3 separate regions of the Homo sapiens genome follow, and all the other regions are reported to be linked to region 1. The links are microRNA targets in miRTarBase. Many come from high-throughput screens and were not tested one by one. Region 1 holds a microRNA gene; each other region holds the end of a gene's coding sequence.
What was found. Region 1 holds the annotated microRNA hsa-miR-6785-5p (UGGGAGGGCGUGGAUGAUGGUG, at 2,661-2,682, shown strand). A microRNA usually pairs through its seed, bases 2 to 8, with sites in the 3' UTR of a target mRNA and lowers its output. Matches are read on the target gene's strand: a 7mer-m8 pairs with bases 2 to 8, a 7mer-A1 pairs with bases 2 to 7 and ends in A, and an 8mer does both.

Region 1 (4,148 bases):
CCATGGGTCTCTGCCCAGTGCCCACTTGGTGCTCTGCCTGCCTGACTCTGGTGCCCTTATACGCTGTCCTCAGCCATGTGTGAGATGATAAAGATCATGCAAGAGTACGGGGAGGTGACCTGCTGCCTGGGCAGCTCTGCCAACCTGCGGAACAGCTGCCTCTTCCTCCAGAGCGACATCAGGTCAGGGCGGGACCCTGGAGCCTGCGGGCCAGCCTCTACCTCCCAGACCGGAGGATCAGATGGGCCTGCGTGGGGCTGGGGGTGTGTACTATAGCCGACCTCGCCCTGGCTGGGACCAATGCACCTGGGCATGGTGGGAGAAGAGGGTGGGGTGCCCAGTCCTGTGGGAGATACAGCTGAAGTGTGTGTGTCCCCCACCCTGAGCAGCATTGCCCTGGATCCCCTGTACCCATCCCGTTGCTCCTGGGAGACCTTTGGCTACGCCACCAGCATCAGCATGGCCCAGGCCTCGGATGGCCTTTCTCCCCTGCAGCTGTCAGGGCAGCTCAACAGCCTGCCCTGTTCCCTGACCTTTCGCCAGGAGGAGACCATCAGCATCATCCGGCTTATCGAACAGGTGGGTGCTTCGGCAGGCAAAGGAGGAGAGACGCAGGACAGGACCCGCCTGGGGTGGGAGTAGCAGCAAAGGACCTGTTTGAACCCGGGGACCTCATTCCCCAGCCCTCCGAGCGGGCTCTCCCAGGCAGTTACATTCGCCTCTGCTCCCCTCGTAGAAGCATCCTGGGCGTCTGGCTCTTGGCTAAAGTGTGTCAGCTGTTGGGCCTGGGAGAGGCCAGGTAGACCCAGGCCATAATCTGTCCCTCTTGGTCCCTAGGCTCGGCATGCCACCTATGGCATCCGTAAGTGCTTCCTCTTCCTGCTGCAGTGCCAGCTGACTCTTGTGGTCATCCAGGTGAGGTGGGGCCCGCACAGGCATTGCCCCCGTGCCACTCACCCCTTCACTCAGGGGCCAGCTGAAAATCTGAGGAAGGAGGCTGGGGTTAGCAGTACAGTCAAGGGGTCCCCCCAGAGCCTCTGTGAAGCCCCTGGGCTTTTTGAGCTGACCCTCATTGGCAGAAGAGTATTCCCTCCGGCCCCTGTTCCCTCTGGCAGGATGTGAGCATCTATCTGGGCCCAGGGCAAGGGAGCTCGGGGGCTCCTATGCCCTTATTATTTGCCTGAATTGAACTGTGGCTCTTGGCTTCTTTCCTGGTCTAGTTCCTTTCTTGCCTGGTCCAGCTGCCGCCACTCCTGAGTACCACCGACATCCTGTGGCTGTCCTGCTTTTGCTACCCTCTGCTCAGGTGAGATGCCATGTATCTTCCCCACACCCCATGCCTAAGCAGGAGGTGTCTGGATGTCACTGTGCAGCCCCAGGAGCCCAAGGTTCTGGAACTGCTCAGGTCTCACCTCCTCTGGTACAGGAGGCATGGAGGGAACCCCCTTTGTCTTTTTTTTTTTTTTTTTTTTTTTTTTTGAGATGGAGTCTCGCTCTGTCACCCAGGCTGGAGTGCAATGGTGCAATCTCTGCTCATTGCAACCTCCGCCTCCCGGGCTCAAGTGATTCTCCTGCCTCAGCCCCCTGAGTAGCTGGGATTACAGGCACCCACTATCATGCCTGGCTAATTTTTGTATTTTTAGTAGAGATGGGTTTTTGCCATGTTGGCGAGGCTGGTTTTGAACTCCTGACCTCAAATGATCTGCCCATCTCAGCCTCCCAAAGTGCTGGGATTACAGGTGTGAGCCACTGCCGTCCAGCCTTTGTTTTATTCCATCCCCTCACCAGACTCGACCTCACGCGCAAGACTCCCTAGAGGTTCCCTCTATGAGAATTGAGGGACAGAGGGTCATTGTCACCATCCCTCTACCTGATCTCTGCTTTTCAGCATCTCTCTGCTGGGGAAGCCCCCCCATAGCTCCATCATGTCTATGGCAACGGGGAAAAACCTCCAGTCCATTCCCAAGAAGGTAAGCAAAACAGACCCTGTGAGCCTTGCAAGTGAGCATGGAAGGGACTGAGGATTGGGGGAGGAGAGAGGGGCTAATCTGGAAGGCTCTGGATGGGGGATTCCAGCAGAACTCCGGCACTTGGTTCCTAGTCTTCCCCCAGATCAAAGAGGAGGTAGTGGCACAGAGCTGGGAAAGACCCTTGCTGGGGCTTGAGCTCCCTATCCCCCCAGGCCTGACCATTTACTAAGAGCCCGTTGAATACGTGGAAGAGCTAGGAGCAGCCGGCAGAGGGGCTGTGCGCCCCAGGAGTGACTGGCCTTGTTCCCGCAGACCCAGCACTACTTCCTGCTCTGCTTCCTGCTCAAGTTCAGCCTCACCATCAGCTCCTGCCTCATCTGCTTTGGCTTCACACTGCAGAGCTTCTGTGACAGCTCCCGGGACCGCAACCTCACCAACTGCTCCTCCGTCATGCTGCCCAGGTGGGTCCCAGCCCCAGAGATCCACCCATCGCCTGCCTCGCCTCGAGGCTTCCTCCCTCCCCACCCCAGCCTACCTCCCTGCGGCCCTAGAGGGGCTGAGCCCATGCCTCACTTTGGCAGCAACGACGACAGGGCTCCAGCCTGGTTTGAGGACTTTGCCAATGGACTGCTGTCGGCTCAGAAGCTCACGGCCGCCCTGATTGTCCTGCACACTGGTGAGAGGGCTCCCTGGGAGGGCGTGGATGATGGTGGGAGAGGAGCCCCACTGTGGAAGTCTGACCCCCACATCGCCCCACCTTCCCCAGTCTTCATTTCCATCACCCATGTGCATCGCACCAAGCCCCTGTGGAGAAAGAGCCCCTTGACCAACCTCTGGTGGGCCGTGACAGTGCCTGTGGTGTGAGTATTGCTAGGATGGAGGGCGGAGTGTGGGCTGGGGAGGAGAGGGCCTTCTGCAGGGCTAGGATCGGAGGGCGGGACCGGGGCCAGTGGTTTAACTGTACCCTGCCTGAGCTAACTGTTGTACTGGGAAGAGCAGGGAAGGAAGCAAGCAGTGTCGGGTTCACACGGGGCCGCCACCTCCTGCAGGCTGCTGGGTCAGGTGGTCCAGACGGCTGTGGACCTGCAGCTGTGGACACACAGGGACAGCCACGTCCACTTTGGCCTGGAGGACGTGCCCCTGCTGACATGGCTCCTGGGCTGCCTGTCCCTGGTCCTTGTGGTGGTGACCAATGAGATCGTGAAGCTACATGAGATTCGGTGAGCTGTCAGCAGGGCGCCTCCCTCTGGGCTCAGGCATGTTCCCTAAACCTGTTACTCCCTTGGCGACACTCCCCCACCTTTCCGCTGCCCATCCCTCCCTCCTCCTCTGGTGTCCTGCCCCGGCCCCTGGTCTAAGGATCTTTGCCAACCTGTACTTTAATCTCCTGCCCCACCAGGGTCCGAGTCCGCTACCAGAAGCGACAGAAGCTGCAGTTTGAAACTAAGCTGGGCATGAACTCTCCCTTCTGAGCCACTGGCTGTGGTGGCTGTAGTTGCCCCCGTCCCTGGGGCTAAAGCCAGACCCATTTCTGAACAGGGGAGTTTGTATCATGAATGTTTCCAGGTTTGCTCCTGCACCCGTGGCACTGGAAACCCAGCTCCCCGTGTCAGACCCCGCTGTCTTCCTGAGCCCTGGGGCTCACTGTGGAGGAGCTGACGGCCTGGGCCCTTGGCCAGTCCTGGCTCTTCCCTGGGCCTCACCAGGGACACTCTTGAATGTATGGCCTCAGGCGCTCCCTAGAGGGGCCCTAAACCCCCTCACCTGTGAGCTACCCCCTTTAGGGATCCCTTGCCCCCTTGGAGATCCCTTGCCCCCCAGTGCCTCTGCTCGTGGGTCCCTGGACACGGCCTTGAAGCCAACCTTCTTTGGAGGAGCAACAGCAGCAGCCTTGGCCGACGCGTCCAACTCCCAAGGCTGCCGTGGAGGGCAGGGGGGTGGTGCTTGCCTGGATGTGGCCCCGAGTGCCTCCCCTCCCTCCCTCTGTGGGGGAGTCTCCCGCCTGAACCTGAAGATGGAGCAGGGCCCCCGCTTCGCCCTGGAGCCTCTTCCTGTGCCTGGCTCAAGCTGGCTGCCTGTCAGTCTTGGGGAATCTGGCCCAGGTCTCCTCAGCCTCTGCCCCAGTTCTGGGAGAAGTTTCTACTGGTGTATATTTTTTACTGGAAATGAGCCTTTTAG
Region 2 (4,000 bases), not on the chromosome of region 1:
ATTTTGTTTTTGTATTTTTGGTAGAGACAGGTTTTCACCGTGTTAGCCAGGATGGTCTCAATCTCCTGACCTCGTGATCCTCCCGCCTCGGCCTCCCGAAGTGCTGGGATGACAGGCGTGAGCCACCGTGCCCGGCCTATTTTTTATATTGTAGTAGAGACAGGGTTTCACCATGTTGTTTGGACTGGTCTCGAACTCCAGAGCTCAGACAGTCTGTCTGCCTCGGCCTCCCGAAGTGCTGGGATGACAGGCGTGAGTCCCCGTGCCCGGCCGCCATGCTCATTTTCTGTCTTCTGCCTCCCTGTCCTCTGTCCTTGCAGGTGCACAGGATCTACCGAGGGGCTGGCGGAAGCTTCCAGAAGGCACAGACGGAGTGGAACACGGGCACTTGGCGGAACCCACCGTCGAGGGAGGCCCAGTACAACAACTTCTCAGGCAACAGCCTGCCCGAGTACCCCACTGTGCCCAGCTACCCGGGCAGTGGCCAGTGGCCTTAGAGGGAGCCTGCCCTGCCCCCACCGCCCACCACCTCCTCCCCTTCATTCCTGCTGCTACCCCTGGTCCCGAGGGCTGGGAGTACCTGGGGCCCCATCCCCCCAGCTGGGATGGTGGAAGCCGGTGGTGGCCACGGACCGCCCCCCTCCTGCCAGGGCCACAGAACCCGTGTTCATCTCATCCGAGAGCGGAGTTCCTCACAAGCACTCCCCAGCAGCCCTTGGCCTCTGCCGTCCACAGGACGCCCTCTTGCTCCCGGAAACGTGTGGTCACCCGCCGTCCACTGCACGGCTGGTACGGCCTTGTCTTCAGGTCTCGAGGCCTGACTCCGGGGGACAGGTGGCAGCAGGTCGGCCGCCCTCCCGTCCTCCCAGAGCTGCTGGCGCTGAGGTCAGAGCGGGTCTGATGGGGAGCTCCGTCTCACCGGCCACCCGCCGTCACCATGGCAGATGCCCTTGGCCGGAACTAATAAGAGGCGTCGGGGCCAGCTTCCGGTCCCCTGCAGTGATAGAGGGCTTGGTGCCTAGCTGAGTCCTCGCTGTCCCCGCCATCCCCTGATCTGTGCGGCTCCAGCCTCGCCCCCTCCCCACGTGCACCATACCTGGGGAGTTCCTGGTCCAGGGTATCCTGGGGCCACCCTCCCTGCCTCCAAAACAGGGATCCCTGGCAGGCTGTCTTTCCACGCCCCTGAGTTCAGAGTCGGGGACCCAGGCCAGGTCGGGAGCACAGCCGCTCCCCAAACCCAGCAAACCGGCAGAGAGCCGGTTTCCCAGCAGCCGGAGCCCTGCAGGAGAGGCCTTTGTGTTTTGTTTTGTTTTGTTTTTTCTCTTTTGAGACAAGAGTTTCACTCTGTCGCCCAGGCTGGAGTGCAGTGGTGTGATCTCGGCTCACTGCAACCTCTGCCTCCCGTGTTCAAGCAGTTCTCCTGCCTCAGCCTCCCAAATAGCTGGGATTACAGTTGCCTGCCACCACGCCCAGCTAATTTTTATATTTTTAGTACAGATGGGGTTTCACCATGTTGGCCAGGCTGGTCTCGAACTCCTGACCTCAAGTGATCCACCCGCCTTGGCCTCCCAAAGTGCTGGGATAATAGGTGTCAGCCACCGCGCCCAGCCTGGAGTGGCCTTTTATGAGAGGGGACCCGTCAAATCTGTGCCTTATGGAGGGGTCCGGCAGCGGCCACAATTGTCTTGTCCCCTCACCCCCCAACTCCCCCTGGAACACCTCTCCCAGGCAAGACATTTTCACAGCACCATTCACAACGGTTGGGCCAAAAAGAAACTTTTCCTTCATCATTTCCTGCACTCGCTGACCACAACTTTGGACACCCCAGGCTGCCACCCCTCCCCACCCGTTCACCCCCAGGATGCTGTTGCTGTAGGACGCCTGCTGCCCTGGAGCCCTCCCCAGGATGTGAGCCAGTCCCCTCGCTGGTACGGAATGCCGCTGGGTGCCCGGAGGCGGCCATGGTGTCTCGATGGACGGCAGCCAGGATGGAGCACCCATGGGTCTCACGGCCATGCTTCAGGGTCTTCAGGTCCTGCCCCCGGCCAGTCTGCCAAGAGGCACCCCCTTCCCCAGCCTCTCGCCTGCACTGATGCAGACAAAATCTCACCTGGCAGGCCCAACCCCCCCCCACCCCTCCCCCGCCGTGTGTGGCCCCTCGCCGCATCGTTGGGGTTTTGTTATGTGAAAATATCCTGGAAATAAATACATGTTTCTGCACTTAGAGCCAGGGACCTGCCGCGTTTGTGCTGTGAGCATGTGTGGTTCCCCCAGGCCGTCTTCTCCCTTGGGAGACCCCTCAGCATATGGCCTCTGGCAGGATGCCCCCCTGCAGCGCCTCCTCCCACCCAGGCCCCGGGTGCCCTGTAGCCAGGTGTGCCCAGGGCTGACCCTGCCATCCTGGCCAACGTGGTGAAACCCGGCCTCTACTAAAAATACAAAAATTAGCCGGGCGCGGTGGCGGGTGCCTGTAGTTCTAGCTACTCAGGAGGCTGAGGCAGGAGAATTGCTTGAACCCGGGAGGCGGAGGTTGCCGTGAACCCAGATCGCGCCACTGCACTCCCCACCGGCTCAAAAAAAAAGGAAACTTGCACAGATGGAAAGCCAGTGTCACTGGCCCTACGTAAAAAGCAAACATCGGCCAGACGCAGTGGCTCACGCCTGTAATCCCAGCACGTTGGGAGGCCGAGGTGGGCGGATCATCTGAGGTCAGGGGTTCAAGACCAGTCTGGCCAACATAGTGAAACTCTGTCTCTACTGAAAACACAAAAAATTAGCTGGGCGTGGTGGCACACGCCTGTAATCCCAGCTACTCGGGAGGCTGAGGCAGGAGAATCGCTTGAACCTGGGAGGCAGAGGTTGCACTAAGCCAAGATTGCACCATTGCACTCCAGCCTGGGTGACAGAGTGAGACTCTGGAGAGAAAAAAAGGGGGGTTGTGGGGTGTGGTGGCTCACACCTGTAATACCAGCACTTTGGGAGGCCGAGGCAGGCAGATCACCCAAGGTCAGGAGTTCAAAACCAGCCTGGCCCACATGGTGAAACCCTGTCTCTACTAGAAATACAAAAATTAGCCAGGTGTGGTGGCAGGTGCCTGTAATCCCAGCTACTTGGGAGGCTGAGGCAGAAGAATCAGTTGAACCTGGGAGGCAGAGGTTGCTGTGAGCCAAGATAACGCCACTGCACTGCCACCTGGGTGACAGAGCAAGATTCTGTCTCAAAAAACAAACCCAGCCGGGCGCGGTGGCTCACGCCTGTAATCCCAGCACTTTGGGAGGCCGAGGCGGGCGGATCACGAGGTCAGGAGATCGAGACCATGCTGGCTAACACGGTGAAACCCCATCTCCACTAAAAATACAAAAAATTCTCCGGGCATGCTGGCGGGCGCCTGTATTCCCAGCTACTCGGGAGGCTGAGGCAGGAGAATGGCATCAACCTGGGCGGGGAGCTTGCAGTGAGCGGAGATCGCTCCATTGCACTCCAGTGTGGGCGACAGAGCGAGACTCTGTCTCAAAAAAAAAAAAAAAAACCAAAAAACAACAAAAGAATAAACTTACTACATGTTAATATTTTTTTTCAAATACTTTGTTTTTTGAGACCGAGTCTCACTCCGTCGCCCACACTGGAGTGCAATGGCGCGATCTCCGCTCACTGCAAGCTCCGCCTCCCGGGTTCACGCCATTCCCCTGCCTCAGCCTCCCGAGTAGCTGGGACTACAGGCGCCCGCCACCACGCCCGGCTAATTTTTTGTATTTTTAATAGAGACGGGGTTTCACTGTGTTAGCCAGGATGGTCTCGATCTCCTGACCTCGTGACCCACCCGCCTCGGCCTCCCAAAGTGCTGGGATTACAGGTGTGAGCCACGGTGCCCGGCCTCAAATACATTTTTTAAACAGGAGGATGGGTGGCATACTTTTTTAAATGTGTGCAAAACTCTTGAACATCTGGCTTCATAGAGGACAAGAGGGATGGCTCAGCAGCTCTGTCGCAAAAGGGTGTT
Region 3 (4,000 bases), not on the chromosome of region 1:
CTCCAAATCAATAAGATAGAATGGTTAGAAGTCAAGTTAGAGTTATTGTGTGGCTACCTTATATCCAGACCTCTAATAGACTGAGTGGAATTGTCACTTCTCTTCCCTCAGTTATCCCAATTGTTAGTAAACTTCAAGGAGGCTGGGCATGATGACTCACACCTGCTATCTCAGAACTTTGGGAGGCGAAGATGGGCAGATTCCTTGAGCCCCGGTGTTCAAGACGAGCCTGGGCAATATGGCAAAACCTCATCTCTAACAAAACACAAAAATTAGCTGGGCCTGGTGGCACGTGCCTGTAGTCCCAGCTACTTAGACTGAAGTGGGAGGATTGCTTGAGCCTGGGAGGCAGAGGTTGCTCTGAGCCAAGATTGTGCCACTGCACTCCAGCATGGGTAACAGAGTGAGACCCTATCTCCAAAAACAAAACAAAACAAAACAAAACAAAACAAATCAAAACCAAACAAAAAACTTCAAGGAAGGCTCGGCACGGTGGCTCATGCCTGTAATCCCACCACTTTGGGAGGCTGAGGTGGGTGGATCACCTGAGGTCGGGAGTTTGAGACCAGCCTGACCAACATGGAGAAACCTCATCTCTACTAGAAATATAAAATTAGCCAGGCGTGGTGGCTCATGCCTGTAATCCTAGCTACTTGGGAGGCTGAGGTAGGAGAATCGCCTCAACCCGGGAGGCGGAGGTTGCAGTGAGCTGAGATTGCACCATTGCACTCCGGCCTGGGCAACAAGAGCAAAATTCTGTCTCAAAAACAAAATAAAACAAAAAAAACTTCAAGGAGATGTGGATTCAGGGCTTGCTTTCCTTCCTTCCTTCTTTTTTTTTTTTTTTTTTGATGGAGTCTCGCTCTGTTGCCCAGGCTGGAGTGCAGTGGTGCAATCTTGGCTCACTGCAATCTCCGCCTCCTGGGTTCAAGCGACTCTCCTGCCTCAGCGTCCTGAGTAGTTGGGATTACAGATGCGTGCCACCACGCCAGGCTAATTTTTGTATTTTTAGTAGAGACAGGGTTTCATCATGTTGGTCAGGCTGGTCTCAAACTCCTGACCGCCTTGGCTTCCCAAAGTGCTGAGATTATAGGCGTGAACCACCATGCCTGGCCTAGGTTTTGTTTTGAACTGATATTCTGTTTCTTCAGCAAGTCCACATAAGAATGTGGATATGAAAGGATGAAAATCTACTGAAAGATTACATAAAGAACAGATAACAGGGACCCACAGAATAAATCAGAAGAAATCTATGAAATAGCCACAACTTCTTGAACATTAAAGTGAAGGGAAAAAAAGCCACATTCATCAGATTAAACAGAAGCTATTAATTTTTTTCTTCCATTTATAGTGTGGATAGGAATTAAAGCAAAACAGTGAGACTGTATGGTTTTCAATACAAGTTCAAAGAAAGCAACAAAATCTTCTGTTTTAGGAAATCATATTAATATCTATTACAAATGCAGAAAGCAGGGGGGCTGAGTCAATGCCCCAGCACCAACCATACTGGTTATAGTGTGGAAGAGGGGCGGGTGAGGTGGAAGCTGCCAGAGAGAGCAGGAGGATCAGCACTGGAGTGAAGAGGAAGCACGCAGCAGGAGAGGGCAAAGAGCACTGAGAAGAAGAGGGGAGCAGTGGGCCATGATTGTGCCCTTCTTGCTTCTCCAGAGACCCTTTCCTATGCAGCACCCCACACCCAGCCAGACCTTATTGTGATTCTGGCTAGAAGTGTGGGGACTGACAGCTCATAAATGCTCCCACAGAGTTGATACAACTCTGCTTTAAGGAGGAGAATACATTTATTGGTCGAAGTGATTTAGAGAATATCATTTGGTAAATAAAACTACAATAGCCTATAAAATGTAACCTGCTAGTTTTCTGCCACGTTAGCATTAATATTAAGGCTTTTTTTTTTTTTTTGAGACGGAGTCTCGCTCTGTCACCCAGGCTGGAGTGCAGTGGCGCGATCTCGGCTCACTGCAATCTCCACCTCCCAGGTTCAAGCAATTCTCCCGCCTCAGCCTCCCCAGTGGCTGGGACTACAAGGCACAAGCCACCATGCCCGGCTAATTTTTTTTACTTTTTAGTAGAGACAGGGTTTTGCCATGTTGGCCAGGCTGGTCTTGAACTCCTGAACTCAGGTGATCCACCCGCCTCAGCCTCCCAAAGTGTTGGGATTACAGGCGTGAGCCACTGAATCTGGCTAAGGCTTTTTTTTTTTTTTTTTTTGCAAGGAAGGAATAAGGGGATTTATTGAAAATGAAAGTACACTCCACAGTGTGGGAGTGGGCCTGAGCACAGGGGCTCAAAACGCCTTTCTTGTTTTTGTATATAGAAAATATACATGCTTTCTCATCTAACCGATTTTTTTTTTTTTTTTTTTTTTAAGACAGAGTCCCACTTTGTTGCCCAGGCTGGAGTGCAGTAGGCATGATCTTGGCTCACTGCAACCTCCACCTCCTGGGTTCAAGCGATTCTCATGCCTCAACCAGGCGCCACCACACCTGGCTAATTTTTGTATTTTTAGTAGAGATGGGGTTTCACCATGTTGGCCAGGCTGGTCTTGAACTCCTGACCTCAGGTGATCCACCCACCTCGGCCTCCCAAAGTGCTGGGATTACAGGCGTGAGCCACCGCGCCTGGCCTCATCTAACCAATTTGGATTCTGGTTGGAGTTCAGGAAAAACTAAGTTCCCATTACTTCCAGATTATTTTAAAATAAAAAATCATGATGACTTGTGAGGAAAAGGAAGAACATGTCAGATCCTGAGCTTCCTCTCAGGCTTGAGTGCCTCAAGAGGACTGTATTGCTGTGTTACGAGAGGTACAGTGCAATGCTTTCATCTGATATGCCAGTGTGGTAAGAAGGCTTTCCCTGGAGGTAGAGACTCTTTTATCAGAAGGTTGGGGGTCTCCAGAAGGTTTTCCCCACCAGGAATTGGATTTGATGGCTGGAATTTAGAGCCTACACATTTGGGTCTCACAATCAGGGCAGGGCAGGTAAGGCTAATGGTGCAAACTGTGTCTCTGCACAGGCAGTCATCTAGGGGAAGGGGTGTGGTGCAGCCAGTAAAACCTGGAACCTGCAAGTGGTTCAGAACTTTGGTGGCCAGTAAGGGAAAAACTCCTCAAGCATGCTACAATATTGAAAGGTTCAAAAGCACTGACAAAGTGTTGTTTTGCCCCCGGTGCAGCACATAAGACTCTGTTCCAGTGAAATGCTACATTCAAAGTGCTGTCCACCTCAGAAGATCCCAGAGGATGCAATTCTGGCTGTGCTGGGAAGTGCTAAAGTTCCCTCCATATGTCACTTTGGAGAAGGAAGCAGCAAAGCAGCCATGTTGATTCCTCTCTCAACCTTTGGCATCATGGACGATGGTAGCTAAAAGAGATTAAAAAAGAGACAAGTTACCACATGATGTACATTGCTTTGCTATTAATGTATCAGTAGTAATGAAATGTTATACCTAATTAACACTGCCTTTCCTCTGCTCTAATTCGACCTGACCTTTCTGTTGCATCTGATACTCCTCATCTGCTTCCTTCTTAAAACTCTTCTCGGCTGGGCGCAATGGTTCACACCTGTAATCCCAGCACTTTGGGAGGCCGAGGCGGGCGGATCAAGAGGTCAGGAGATTGAGACCATCCTGGCTAACACGGTGAAACCCTGTCTCTACTAAAAATACAAAAAATTAGCTGGGCGTGGTGGCGCGCACCTGTAGTCCCAGCTACTCGCGAGGCTGAGGCAGGAGAATGGCGTGAACCTGGGAGGTGGAGTTTGCAGTGAGCCGAGATCGCGCCACTGCACTCCAGCCTGGGTGACACAGCGAGACTCCGTCTCAAAAAAAAAAAAAAAAAAAAAAAAGAACTCTTCTCTTGGCTTCTGTAACACTATCTTTTCCATAATTTTCTCTCTTCTTCAATTGATCTTTCTCAGTATGCTGTCCTGGTTCATTTTCCTCTGTCTACCCTTTAAATAAAAAACAACTTTCCTTGGCCA

Region 2: miRTarBase lists SCAMP4 as a target of hsa-miR-6785-5p. Seed matches in the 3' UTR shown: 7mer-m8 at 853-859, 7mer-A1 at 862-868, 7mer-m8 at 1,076-1,082, 7mer-m8 at 1,132-1,138, 7mer-A1 at 1,430-1,436, 7mer-A1 at 1,565-1,571 and 3 more.
Region 3: miRTarBase lists PHACTR4 as a target of hsa-miR-6785-5p. Seed matches in the 3' UTR shown: 7mer-A1 at 655-661, 7mer-A1 at 521-527, 7mer-A1 at 343-349, 7mer-A1 at 324-330 and 7mer-A1 at 180-186.

What each region holds. Positions count from the first base shown.
Region 1 is chr17:75,495,893-75,500,040 of GRCh38, forward strand. It overlaps MIR6785 (microRNA 6785), which reads left to right and starts at 2,656; the gene lies at 2,656-2,736. It overlaps TMEM94 (transmembrane protein 94), which reads left to right. Exons shown (of 32, transcript NM_014738.6): 23 at 74-182; 24 at 390-579; 25 at 838-915; 26 at 1,221-1,306; 27 at 1,889-1,970; 28 at 2,283-2,431; 29 at 2,552-2,646; 30 at 2,737-2,830; 31 at 3,020-3,190; 32 at 3,370-4,148. The coding sequence ends at 3,442.
Region 2 is chr19:1,923,788-1,927,787 of GRCh38, forward strand. It overlaps SCAMP4 (secretory carrier membrane protein 4), which reads left to right. Exons shown (of 7, transcript NM_079834.4): 7 at 321-2,226. The coding sequence ends at 497. Among named protein-coding and RNA genes, the nearest start is that of CSNK1G2, 15 kb to the right of the region's middle.
Region 3 is chr1:28,495,916-28,499,915 of GRCh38, reverse strand. PHACTR4 (phosphatase and actin regulator 4) reads right to left here. Exons shown (of 14, transcript NM_001048183.3): 14 at 1-3,382. The coding sequence ends at 3,367. Among named protein-coding and RNA genes, the nearest start is that of SNHG3, 8.0 kb to the left of the region's middle.